Regions from separate parts of the Homo sapiens genome. Here all the other regions are linked to region 2. The links come from fine-mapping of genetic effects on gene expression. A gene starts in region 2. Each other region holds a variant in brackets. All regions are shown on one strand. Distances are from middle to middle.

Evidence for each region. PIP is the estimated chance that this variant, and not a neighbour inherited with it, causes the effect. A credible set is the group of variants that fine-mapping cannot tell apart.
Region 1: its variant is the best candidate, but not a certain one, in a credible set for the expression of EPB41L5 in anterior cingulate cortex (GTEx, PIP 0.50).
Region 3: its variant is the best candidate, but not a certain one, in a credible set for the expression of EPB41L5 in blood mononuclear cells (TOPMed, PIP 0.55).

Annotation. Positions count from the first base shown.
Region 1 is chr2:120,077,338-120,081,576 of GRCh38, reverse strand. EPB41L5 (erythrocyte membrane protein band 4.1 like 5) reads right to left here. Exons shown (of 25, transcript NM_020909.4): 10 at 2,996-3,084. Among named protein-coding and RNA genes, the nearest start is that of EPB41L5, 66 kb to the right of the region's middle. The variant T/C (reference allele first, on the strand shown) is at 1,990.
Region 2 is chr2:120,011,336-120,015,574 of GRCh38, reverse strand. It overlaps EPB41L5 (erythrocyte membrane protein band 4.1 like 5), which reads right to left and starts at 2,498. Exons shown (of 25, transcript NM_020909.4): 1 at 2,365-2,498. It overlaps LOC107985817 (a long non-coding RNA gene), which reads right to left. Exons shown (of 4, transcript XR_001739205.2): 3 at 3,917-3,935; 4 at 2,871-3,182. RefSeq lists a silencer at 2,153-2,322.
Region 3 is chr2:120,277,105-120,281,343 of GRCh38, reverse strand. RALB (RAS like proto-oncogene B) reads right to left here. Exons shown (of 5, transcript NM_002881.3): 2 at 2,566-2,726. The coding sequence starts at 2,679. Among named protein-coding and RNA genes, the nearest start is that of RALB, 26 kb to the right of the region's middle. The variant A/G (reference allele first, on the strand shown) is at 2,322.

The sequences.
Region 1 (4,239 bases), 66 kb before region 2:
AATCCTAAGCAAAAAGAACAAAGCTGAAGGCATTACGCTACCTGACTTCAAACTATATTACAAGGCTACAGTAACCAAAACAGCATGGTACTGGTACCAAAACAGAGATATAGACCAATGGAACAGAACAGAGCCCTCGGAAATAATACCACACATCTACAACCATCCAATCTTTGACAAACCTGACAAAAACAAGAAATGGGGAAAGGATTCCCTATTTAATAAATGGTGCCGGGAAAACTGGCTAGCCGTATGTAGAAAGCTGAAACTGGATCCCTTCCTTACACCTTATACAAAAATCAATTCAAGATGGATTAAAGACTTAAATGTTAGACCTAAAACCATAAAAACCCTAGAAGAAAACCTAGGCAATACCATTCAGGACATAGGCATGGGCAAAGACTTCATGTCTAAAACACCAAAAGCAATGGCAACAAAAGCCAAAATTGACAAATGGGATCTAATTAAACTAAAGAGCTTCTGCACAGCAAAAGAAACTACATCAGAGTGAACAGGCAACCTACAGAATGAGAGAAAAGTTTTGCAATCTACCCATCTGACAAAGTGCTAATATCTAGAATCTACAAAGAACTCAAACAAATTTACAAGAAAAAAAAACAAACAACCCCACCAAAAAGTGGGCAAAGGATATGAACAGACATTTCGCAAAAGAAGACATTTATGCAGCCAACAGACACATGAAAAAATGCTCATCATCACTGGCCATCAGAGAAATGCAAATCAAAACCACAATGAGATACATCTCACACCAGTTAGAATGGCCATCATTAAAAAGTCAGGAAACAGAAGGTGCTGGACAGAATGTGGAGACACAGGAACACTTTTGCACTGTTGGTGGGACTGTAAACTAGTGCAACCATTATGGAAGACAGTGTGGCGATTCCTCAAGGATCTAGAACTAGAAATACCATCTGACCCAGCCATCCCATTACTGGGTATATACCCAAAGGATTATAAATCATGCTGCTATAAAGACACATGCACACGTATGTTTACTGCGGCACTATTCACAATAGCAAAGACTTGGAACCAACCCCAATGTCCATCAATGATAGACTGGATTAAGAAAATGTGGCACATATACACCATGGAATACTATGCAGCCATAAAAAAGGATGAGTTCATATCCTTTGTAGGGACATGGATGAAGCTGGAAATCATCATTCTCAGCAAACTATTGCAAGGACAAAAAACCAAACACCGCATGTTCTCAGTCGTCGGTGGGAACTGAACAATGAGAACACTTGGACACAGGAAGGGGAACATCACACACCGGGGCCTGTCGTGGGGTTGGGGGAGGGGGAGGGATAGCATTAGGAGATATACCTAATGTAAATGACGAGTTAATCGGTGCAGCACACCAACTTGGCGCATGTATACATACGTAACAAACCTGCACACTTTGCACATGTACCCTAGAACTTAAAGTATAATAAAAAAAAAAAAAGAAATACTACTTTCAATTTTTTGAGGGAAATAATTTTCAACCTAAAATTCTATCCTCAGCCTAATTATCAAGAAAGAATAAAAGACAAAAAAATCATTTTAAGGCATTTAAGCATTCAAACAAATTACTTTTCTTAGGCAGTTACTTTCTTTACTTAGGCAGTTAGCGGGGGCAGGGAGGACAAAGAAAAAGGAAACCATGGGAGGACCACGCAGGACCCTAGCTGAGAACACAGGAAAGGGAAGTCTCAAGATAAAAGCTGGAAAGCAACCTGTGCAGCAAACAGTTCCACAGGGAACAGAAGGACCATTTAATGTAACCCTTGATAACTTAAAAAAGCTTGAGGAGAAGACAAAGGCAGGTAATTTAAAGGGATGTGTGGGGTATGTGAGATGGGGAAGCCAAGAACTCTAGAACAAAAACAAATAGCTAAAAAGAAAGGAAATGTAATACCAGTTGTGAGTTCCAGGACTTCCGAGCTGATCAAGAAAATGTACCACAGAACAGGCTTTATCGAGCAG[T/C]GTTTGGAAAGGGTTGCCTGATAGGGGTGGTCCTTCATAGCAGGTGACCTTCCAGAGACAGCAGCTGCAAGGCTACCACCAGATGGGGAGGAGGGCAAGGAAACTCTCAGTAAAGAGGGGAACCTGAGAGGGGGCTTAAGTGCCTAGGGGATGGCATTCAGCAGTTAAGTGTGAGGGATCTGAGTCAGAGAATTCAGAAAGGCAGCAGTGGTTTTGGGGTCCTTTAATCTACAGAGCTTGCCTTATCTATGGCCAGTAGATGTTAGGGTGCAGTTTCATGGGATATATAAAGCAGAAATGGCTAAAAATATACGTAGTGGGCTATGTTTAAAGTAACTGGATGTGTCAGAATTTGAGTTTGATGCCAGAGGTCTTTGCGCTAACAGTCCCTGTCTAGTGTACAAAAGTAAACACCTAGGCTCTGTACTATTCTGATAGAGACATCTTATTGTAAACAGTACCCTGATTCTCAGCTTTTAGAATACCAGACAAAATCTGATGGACTCAATTATGGCCAAGAAATCCAAGTAAAATCTATCCTTGATGTAAAAGTAAAACATAAATGTAATTTAAAAGTATGAACGATAAAAGCTGGAACAGTATAAGGAGCACAGCTTAGAGAAGGGATAAAAATATTAGTATCTTCCTCTTACACAATAGGGGGTAAAGGGATTGTGGAATAATAAATATTAAAAGCAATGACATGACTACATGGAGGGAGAAAGTGCCCATGTGAACATCTGATACATATAAAAATATAAATATTTATATCAAGATATAGATTGTGGTATACTTTGAAACTAATGGGAAATACAGCTAGAAGAGTTTTAATAATTGCCTCTGGAGAGTAGGAATAATGATGCGTAATAGTGTGACAGGAGACAGTTGCTTTCATTGACAAGTTTTTCAAAACTATTTGATTTCCAAACTTGTTTATGTATTAACTTTATTTACTCATTAAAAACCAAAACAACAGTAAGTATCTTTGACAATAACTCTTGCTTACCAAAAAAATAAGCCAATTTTGGTATCTCCTTCAAAAACAAGGACTCCTGTTGGTGTTAGTCCCAAACTATAGTCATTCCCATCTCTAGCCTAATTTAAGGGGAGAAAAATGTGTTAGCTTTATTTGTACAAAACAGGTTTCACATTGACACAACTTTTAAATTTTATTTTTGTATTGAATTGTATTAATTATATACAGGCTAATATTAATATATGAGATGTTTTCAACAATTAGAGTATCCATAATAATATTCTCAGAAAAATTTATGCATATATTTTTATTTCTAGTCATTGAAACACTAGAGTTTTAAAGTGTATCTTCATTGAAAGTGGGTAGTTACACTCCCACTACAAACAAAGCTGTTTCCACATTCTTCCCATATTATACTTACCACTTAAATCATGTATTTTGGAAAAGACTGCTGATACGGTTTGGCTCTATGTCTACACCCAAATCTTGTGTCATATTGTAATCCCCAGTATTGGAGGAGGGGCCTGGTGGGAGGTGACTGAATCATGGAGACGGACTTCCCCCTTGCTGTTCTCATGATAGTGAATGAGTTCTCACAAGATCTGGTTGTCTGAAAGTGTGTAGCACCTCCCTCTTTGCTCTCTCTCCCTCCTGCCAGCCATGTACAGATGTGCCTGTTTGCCCTTCACGTTGCCCAATGATTATAAGTTTCCTGAGGCCTCCTGAGAGGGAGAAGCCTGTACAGCCTGCAAAACCATGAGCCAATTGAACCTCTTTATAAATTTATGTCTTTATAGCAGTGCGAGAATGAACTAATACAACCGCCTTTCTGGAAAAATGTTACTAGTTAAACTAGAAATAACTTAAATCACTACAAAGCTGTTCTAAAGTTTATCAAAGTCTTTAAGCTATAAATCTTCAACTTTGCATCCTGAATTATTTTAACAGAGCCTACTCAGTGTAAGTCGTATAACAGGAAGTAAAAAGGATAACAAATGGCTCAAAAGCTTAAAACAATTTTTTATAGCAAAAAAATAAAATAAAATAAAATAACAGCTTAAAAGGACCAAGTACCTTGTTAGGGATGTTGGTTGCTTCTCTTCTTTCTTATAATGAACCTTTCTGTGAGATTCTAGTCATTTGGTATTTAATCTCAAACTTTTTAACCATACATCCAAAGTACCCAGTGCTAGCTTATGCAAACTCCATGCCCTCCCTCATACTGAAAAATTCCACAGTCACTGCGAACCTCCAAAGAATAAATTTTTAAAAAA
Region 2 (4,239 bases):
AGAGTTTCATCCTACACGGAGATGGGATACATGCACACACACAGACACGCTAAACAGACACACACGTAAACTGTTGAGATTCTCTCTGAAGAGGGGCATGTCAGAAGTCACAACAAGAATATATGGCTGGGTACAGTGGCTCATGTCTGTAATCCCAGCACTTTGGGAGGCTAAGGCGGAACTGTTGGAAGCCAGGAGTTCAAGACCTGCCTGGGCAACACAGCAAGACCCCACCTAATTTTTTTTTTTTTTTTGAGTCTCGCTCTGTTGCCCAGGCTGAAGTGCAGTGGCGCGATCTGGGCTCACTGCAAGATCTGCCTCCCGGGTTTACGCCATTCTTCTGCCTCAGCCTCCCAAGTAGCTGGGACTACAGGTGCCCGCCGCTACGACCGGCTAATTTTTTGTTATTTTTTTTAGTAGAGGCGGGGTTTCACCGTGTTAGCCAGGATAGTCTCCATCTCCTGACCTCGTGATCCGCCCGCCTCGGCCTCCCAAAGTGCTGGGATTACAGGCGTGAGCCACTGCGCCTGGCCTAATTTTTTTTAATGGAAAAAAAAAATAATATGAATGGATCACTAAAAGTTGTGGGTTTTTTTTTTTTTTAATGATTGTGAAAAAAGTTTTCTCATACTCACTTTTCCCCTCCCACCTGCACTCTTCCAATTGCGCTCTTCATGTTGCAGCCACTGGATTTTTGGCAACCACAAATCTGATCCCTGTTCTAAAATCTTTAATGGCCCTGGTCCTAGATGCAGCTCCTCCTACTTGCCTGACCCATCTGTCAGCCTACTCCCCTCTGTTTGCTCTGCTCTTGTACTCTTGCTGCTCGGCCGGAGAGTCTTTTTAATTCTGGACCATTTTTCATTAGCTGTTCCACCTTTCTGGATTGCTCTTTTTCCAGTTGACCTCTCTTCCACCCGCTCCCATTTCACTGGACTAACTTCAGACTTATAGTTGAAATGTCTTATTCTCAGAAAAGCAATCTCAGACTTGTGAGTCTAAATTCGACATCTCTTTCAGTACTCTTAGCCTTTTCTTTATAACAAAGAAATTGTAATTAAATATCTGTTAATTATTATCTTTTTTACTGACTACTTCCCCCACTCACACACAAGGACAAAGACTTCGTCTGGCTTGTTCACTACTTTGGCCCAACAGCTGGCTTAACCCGCATCTCGCCTGACACACTAGAATGACACAGTGGAATTTTTGGATGGTAGGTTTATGTGGCTTCCAAAAAACAGTAGTTTCTACTCTAGTTCCTAACTAGAAGGATTTCCTTTAGAATCATAAAATGCAAATTTAAGCAATCCTATCAGAAGTTGGTTAAAAAAAGTACCCAAAACCCAAAAGTTAGTCATGAAATATGTATACTCTTACATGACTGGTGGCCACAATATGGTTGGTTAATTGCTTTTTGATAAAGCAATATAACATACAGCAAATGCCATTTAAGGTAACACTATATTTTGTCCCAGTATTCCCAATAAAGAAAATGCAAGCGAGTAATTCAACAGCAGTTACGCATATCGTTTTCGAATAATGTTAACCTATTTTCTAAAGCCTGCACAGCATATTACATGCACAAATAATCCAACAAGGTTAACTAGAGCTCAGCAACGGGTTATGTTAGAAACTGAGTTAATGCAGTTGTGGGTTACATTACAAATGTACACGGTTATGGGAATTTTCCCCGTAATTCTTTAAAAACTTTTAATATTAGTCTAAAATATTGCCAAACGTTTTAAGAGTTGGGTCTCGCTCTTAGGTAGAATTCGAGTAACCACAGACACAATTAACATTTACACACCAAAGAACCCATCATTAGCACGACAACCGTCCCGGGTGGGGGCGGGGCGGGACCTTCAGACCTCGTCTTTCATGGGAACACACCTGCCTCTCCTTTCCCAAGAGACTGAAGTTTTTCTCAAATACAGGTTAGCTCGAAAAGTCCACCAAGACAGTGACACAAACTCAGTTCGTTTTTCCCCTTCCCTTGCGACTTTTGTCTCTCCCGCTGGACGGCAGCCCAGCGGACCAGCGAGGGGTACCCGCGGCTCGGGGAGCGCGTCCGCTCGGCAAACATTAACCCGGCTGCCCCGGGCCCTCCGCCCCGGCCCGTCGCGCGGTATCGACCGAAACTCGGCGGCCCTGCCTCATTGGCCGCCGCCGCCCCTCCCTCCGGCGGGATTAATGCCCTGCCGGCCCGACGAGAGAGGGGCCGGCCGCCCTAGGGTCTGGGTGCGGCCCCCGCCCGCCTCCCCGGGGACAAGGCCGCTACCGCAGGCGCGGGCGAGGAAGGGTCCACTCGGCTAGGAGCGCAGCGGACTGTACTGCGGCGCCGCCGCCGGGCCTCGCGCTTACCTGAGCTGGGGACGGCGCAGCCCCGGCGACCAGAGCGGGGAAGAGCCGAGCAAGGCTGAGAAAGGGGCGGCTCCTCGGTAGACGCCGAGAAATGGCGCCCACAACGAGCCCACCGGCTCTAATCCCCGGAGGACCCCGACCTCCCGCCCGTCCACCCCTTAAAGCTCCCTCCCAGCTCCGCCCCCAGGGCGGAGCGCTCCGCTCTTAAACGGGCGATGACACCGCCCCGGAAATTGGCCGGCGCGGCGACTGGAGAGAAACCGGCGAGGCCGGGCCCGGCCGGGCTGGAACTAGCGCCAGCAGCCGGGCGTCCGCGGCTGGTTTAAAGGGGCGCTGCCGAAACCCAGTTCCCGCTGCGGCCCTCCGCCCGCGGAGGAGGCGCCCGTCCGCAGACAGACCCCAGTTAGTCCTATCACGAAGGAGGCTGGTGGAGCTGGCTGCTAGATTCATTCATCCATTCGTTCAAGAGATTAAATCCTTCGCAAATACTTATTGAGAGCCTGTCACGTATTTCCTCCCTTTTTCTCCTTTGTAGGGATTAAAATACATTTAAATCTCTGCTGTTAAAGTGACTTTCACTCTACTGGGGAAACAGTAAACAAATAGGTGTCACAAGGTGATTAAGTGTAAATGAGGAAAAATAAAACTGGGAAAGAGAAATAAAAGATTACTGCTTAGCAGAGTGTGGTCAGGAGGGTACTCTAACAAGGTGACATTCAGTCCGTTCATTCTACAGGTAATTGATTGAAGTGCCTACTTACTGTGAGTTCTGTGTTCTAGACACGAGATACGACAGACAACCAAGACAGACAAAAATCCTTCCCGGAGTTTACGTTATAGCAGGAATATAAACGAGACATAAAATAAACGAGATAAATTAGTGAAATTAAATACTGTCAGACATTGGTAAATGCTAAAAAGAAAAGTACAAGTAGGGAATAACCACAGGCAGTGAGGGTTTGCGATTTTACATAGCAGGTCACAATAAGAAGGTGGCATTTGGCTGGGCGCGGTGGCTCACTCCTGTAATCCCAACACTTTGGGAGGCCGAGGCGGGCGGATCACGAGGTCAGGAGATCGAGACCAGCCTGGCCAACACTGTGAAACTCCGTCTCCACTAAAAATACAAAAATTAGCTGAGCCTGGTGGCGTCCGACTGTAGTCCCAGCTACTCAGGAGGCTGAGGCAGGGGAATCGCTCGAACCCGGGAGGCGGAAGTTGCAGTGAGCCCAGATCACGCCACTGCACTCCAGCCTGGCGACAAAGCCAGACTCAGTCTCAAAAAAAAAAAAAAAGGTAGCATTTGAATGAAGACCTAGAGGAGGTGTGGGAGGAACCCTGTGGCCATCTGGGGAGAACCGAAGGGAACAGCAAGGGCAAAAGGCCCTGCAAGGGGACAGGTCTGTCTTTTCAAGGAAGTCCAGTGTGGCTAGAAGTGAGGAAGCAAGAGGAAGAGGAGGTGACAGTCAGAGAGGAAAGGGGTAAGATGTAGGGCCTTGTGGGCCCTGGCTAGAGCTCTGAGAGAGGTGGGGGAGCCACTGGAAGGTGTTACCTTGAGGACCCTCTGCTTGCTGAAATGAAAAGAGACAAATACTCATTGAGCTTCTTCTCGGGATTTGGCACTGCCCACTCCTCCACCACCCCAAAACGTAGTAGACAGGCTTGGCAGCTCATCTCTGCCCCATGTGGTGTTGGCTGGGCAGCTCAACAGGTGCTGGAGCTGCCAAGGTGGTTTCACTGGTCTGTGTGGCATCTCCGCTGGGGTGGCTGCAAAGAACAGCTGAGTTCTGCCTGGGCTACTCTCTTGCAGATCCGCTGGTGTGGCAAAACAGTGAAAACAGAAGCTCTGAGGCCTATGAAGGGCTATGCCCAGCA
Region 3 (4,239 bases), 270 kb before region 2:
AAGACCGTCTAGGCTGGCTGGAGACTGTCCTGCCGGCCTTGGAGAAGCAAGCCACTGTGGTATGAGCTGCCTATGGAGACGGCACATGGCAGGGGCCTGCGGGCAACTTGTAGAATCCGAGCACCTGTGTCCTACACCCACAAGGAACTAAATTCTACCAACAATTAGGGAGCCTGGAAGAGGACCCCCACGCCTCAGAAGAGGTCACAGCCCCAGCTGACACCTTGAGTGGAGTCTTGTGGGACTCTGAGCAGAGGACTCAGCTGAGGCTCCAATTCTGGACCCATGGAAACTATGGAATGACAAATGTATGTTGTTTTAACCTGCTAACTTTGTGATTATTATACAGTAATAAAAAAAACTAATACAAACAGCACTGACATCACAAAATCCAGCAAAATAACAATATTTTTATTAATTAAACTGCCTGACATACCTCTAGAATACCTTCTACTTTTTTGTTTGCTGTATACTTTTTCTTGTCATATGCCAATGATTTTGAAACATTCCTATAGAGAATAAAAAATAATTTAGTCTTTCCTTTAGCATGGTTAATGAAAATGTCTTTTGTTCTGACAGCTTAGAAGAGGTTCTTTCAGCTTCACAACTACATGAGTTTTTTTTTTTTTCTTTTTACTTTAAGTTCTGGGATACATGTGCAGAACATGCAGGTTATGTAGGTATACATGTGCCATGGTGGTTTGCTGCACCTATCGACCCATCATCTAGGTTTTAAGCCCCACATGCATTAGGTATTTGTCCTAATGCTCTCCCTCCCCTTGCCCCCCGCCCCCCAAAAGGCCCCAGCATGTGATGTTCCCCTCCCTGTGTCCATGCGTTCTCATTGTTCAACTCCCACTTATGAGTGAGAATATGTGGTGTCTGGTTTTCTGTTCCTGTGTTTGCTGAGAGTGATGGTTTCCAGCTTCATCGATGTCCCTGCAAAGGACATGAACTCATTCTTTTTTATGGCTGCATAGTATTCCATGGTGTATATGTGCCACATTTTCTTTATCCAGTCTATCTTTGATGGGCATTTGGGTTGGTTCCATGTCTTTGCTATTGTAAATAGTGCTGCAATAAACATACATGTGCATGTGACTACATGGCATTTCTAGTAATGAAAGTTTTGGGATTACTGCCAAATTTAGGAAACCTCTATTGAGCTTCACTGTACAAGCTGTAAGATCTGAAAGACTTTTCTGGCCCAGTTTCTAGCTTCTAGCTCTCACACACTTGTGTCAGGTGCCACAGGACAGGTTCGCATCAGGATCCACCCCTGGCCCTGCACCTCACATCACGATGTTCGCACGTCAGCACAGTGGGCGGTTGGAGTACTCCTGCAGCCAGCGATAATCGCCACATGCCGCGTGACTCCAAACCACACCAACACATACCACTATTCCCACCTAACCCAGCCCAACACAAACTCCCTCAGCTAGAGGCCGAAAATGCCCATGGCCACTCCAGCTGCACCCAGCATAAGAGGAAGCAGGACAATGGGAAAGTCTAGTGAAAAGAGGTAGTGATCTTAACTGACGTGGTTGTGATAGCTTTCTTTCGCAAATCTCATAAAGCCATGTGGCCGCAATGCAAGTGAGAGGCCCTGAGGTTTAAGCTCTGCTCGGAACACTCTCCCTGCCTGTACTACAGTCATCCCTCGGTATCCCTAGAGAAATGGTTCCATGACCCCCACCAAATACCAAAATCTGCAGATGCTCAAGTCCTTTACTTAAAATGGCACAGCATTTACATGTAACATCCTCCCGTACACTTTAAATCATCTCTAGATTACTTATAATACATAATACAATGTAAAGGCTACGCAAACAGTTGTTACATTGCATGTTTTAATTTGTATTGTTTTTATCATTGCATTGTTATTTTTCATTGGGTTTTTTTCCCGAATATTTTCATTCCGCAACGTTTCATTCTACATTGCTTGAATCTGCAGATGTAGAGCCCACAGTAGGCTAAGTATCCTAGCAAACAGCTCAAGCAGGGACTTTTGTAGCTCCGGGGATCAAGGCTGTGTTGTCACACTGAACTCAACACCAGTGATGTTATCCACATTAAGTAGGTGACGTAAATTTTGGGCAAGGATAGTGCAAGCTTTACCTTGCCGCACGGGAGAACTGGATCTGATGTCTATCACTTGCGAAAGGATTAAGTTGTATGACAGCTCAGCTCCCCTTTCACTCTCTTTCACTTCGCGATTGACTGACAATCACAAGGCTAAATGCTTGTGTTGTTTGGAAAATCTGTACAAAGGCTCCTCTCTCCTCCCCTGGGCTTTTGTCAGAAAGAAAGCTCGAAGTATA[A/G]CAATGGAAACGATGCAAGCAGAGATCTCTCACATCCCCGCCGGAGTTGAAATTATTTACCTAGAATCAGCAATCCAGATCTTATGCTGATTAGACCTTCCTAGGAAGCTATTCAGAAGCCACCTCAACACAGACTTGCTCCGTGAACCCCTGTGTACGGGAGGACCGGCACAGAAACAGCGGGAGCAGGGACACTGCTACGGCCAATGCCAAAGGAAGGTGGTCTGTGCCTAGCAGGGCTTACCTCGTCATACATGAACTGAAGCGTCAGGGCTGACTTGCCAACGCCTCCGCTGCCAACCATGATCACCTTGTGGAGGGCCAAGGAGCTCTGGCCCTTACTCTTGTTGGCAGCCATCTCGCTGGTCTTCTGAGGCTGTGACACACAGATGACCCACTGAAGAGCTGCTGATGACAAAGACAAAGACTTAGAGGCGATTTGCTTTCAACCTAGCTAAAACCAAATGTCATTCACATCCTCCATTAAAGCCTAACTAACCCAGACATTCCAACAGGAAAGTAATCCTTTCAGGCTCAGGGCAGACATGCGAGCCCTCCAACAACTCTGGAAGTCACTTACCCCAGCACAGCTGGGGCGAAGCCAAGGCTAGAGGGGAGAAACAGGAGCGCACACCCCACGCCCGCCTCACTGGGCAGGGTGGAGAGGACACCCAGTCACCAAAAATCATCAGACCCTCAGCAGGGCCTCACTGAGGCAGAGACCAAACCGCTCGTAGCTCCAGTTTCCTACCTCTCTGCTCGGTTCTCGGCTGCCGCGGAGAACAGCTTGGGACCTCAATCCCCAGCTCTTTAGCTTTACTCCTCGCTTTGCCCTCTTACCCTCTACCCCACAACACGCACACACTCACAACACGCTCACACACGCTCTCACATTCACACTCACAAACGGTCACTAACACACTCACACATGCCCACATTCACACACATGCTCACACTCACACACGCTCACATTCACACACACTCACGCTCTCACATTCACATTCACACATGCTCACACACTCGCACACACATTCACACATGCTCTTATTCACACACATTCACTCACATTCACACATTCACACTCGCTCACACACGCTCACATTAACTCACATTCACACACACGCTCACACTCATTTTCACACTCATGTTCTCACATTCACACATGCTCATGTTCTCACATTCAAACACACATATTCACACACTTGCTCTCACACGCTCTCACACACTATCACAGGCTCACACATGCTAGCACACGCTGTCATACATGCTCACATTCACACACAAGCTCACACACTATCACACACGCACTATCACACACACCCACATACACACTTTCACTCATAACACGTTCACAACGCTCTCACAACACTTTCAAATTTGTGCTCATGTACACTCACAAGCTCACATGCTCTCACAACACACACTCCATACACTATCACACACTTGTCCTCTCATAGGTGCACTCACGCTTTCACACACACACACAACTACACACTCACATACGCTCTAACGTTCACATGCTCATACCACACATACATGTTCATGCTCACACCACATACATGCTCTAACACATGCTCATATCACAGGCTCAGAGGCTCTAACATGCACATGCGTGTTCACATGCTCTCACACATACATGTTCACGCCACCACACACATGCTCTCACACACATGTTCACATGCTCACACCACACACAATCTCACATGCTGTAACACGTTCACAGAACACACACGCTCTCGCACATGCTCCCATGCACTCTTATGCTCTCATACACTTTCTCACACACACATATGCTCTCACACTCTTACACAGCCCCACACATCCCTCTGGTTGATTAAAGAAGTGAGTTCAAGAACAAATACCCCTTCATGACATGAGAGTTAAAAGGAGAAATCTCAAAATCAATTTGCCCTAATCA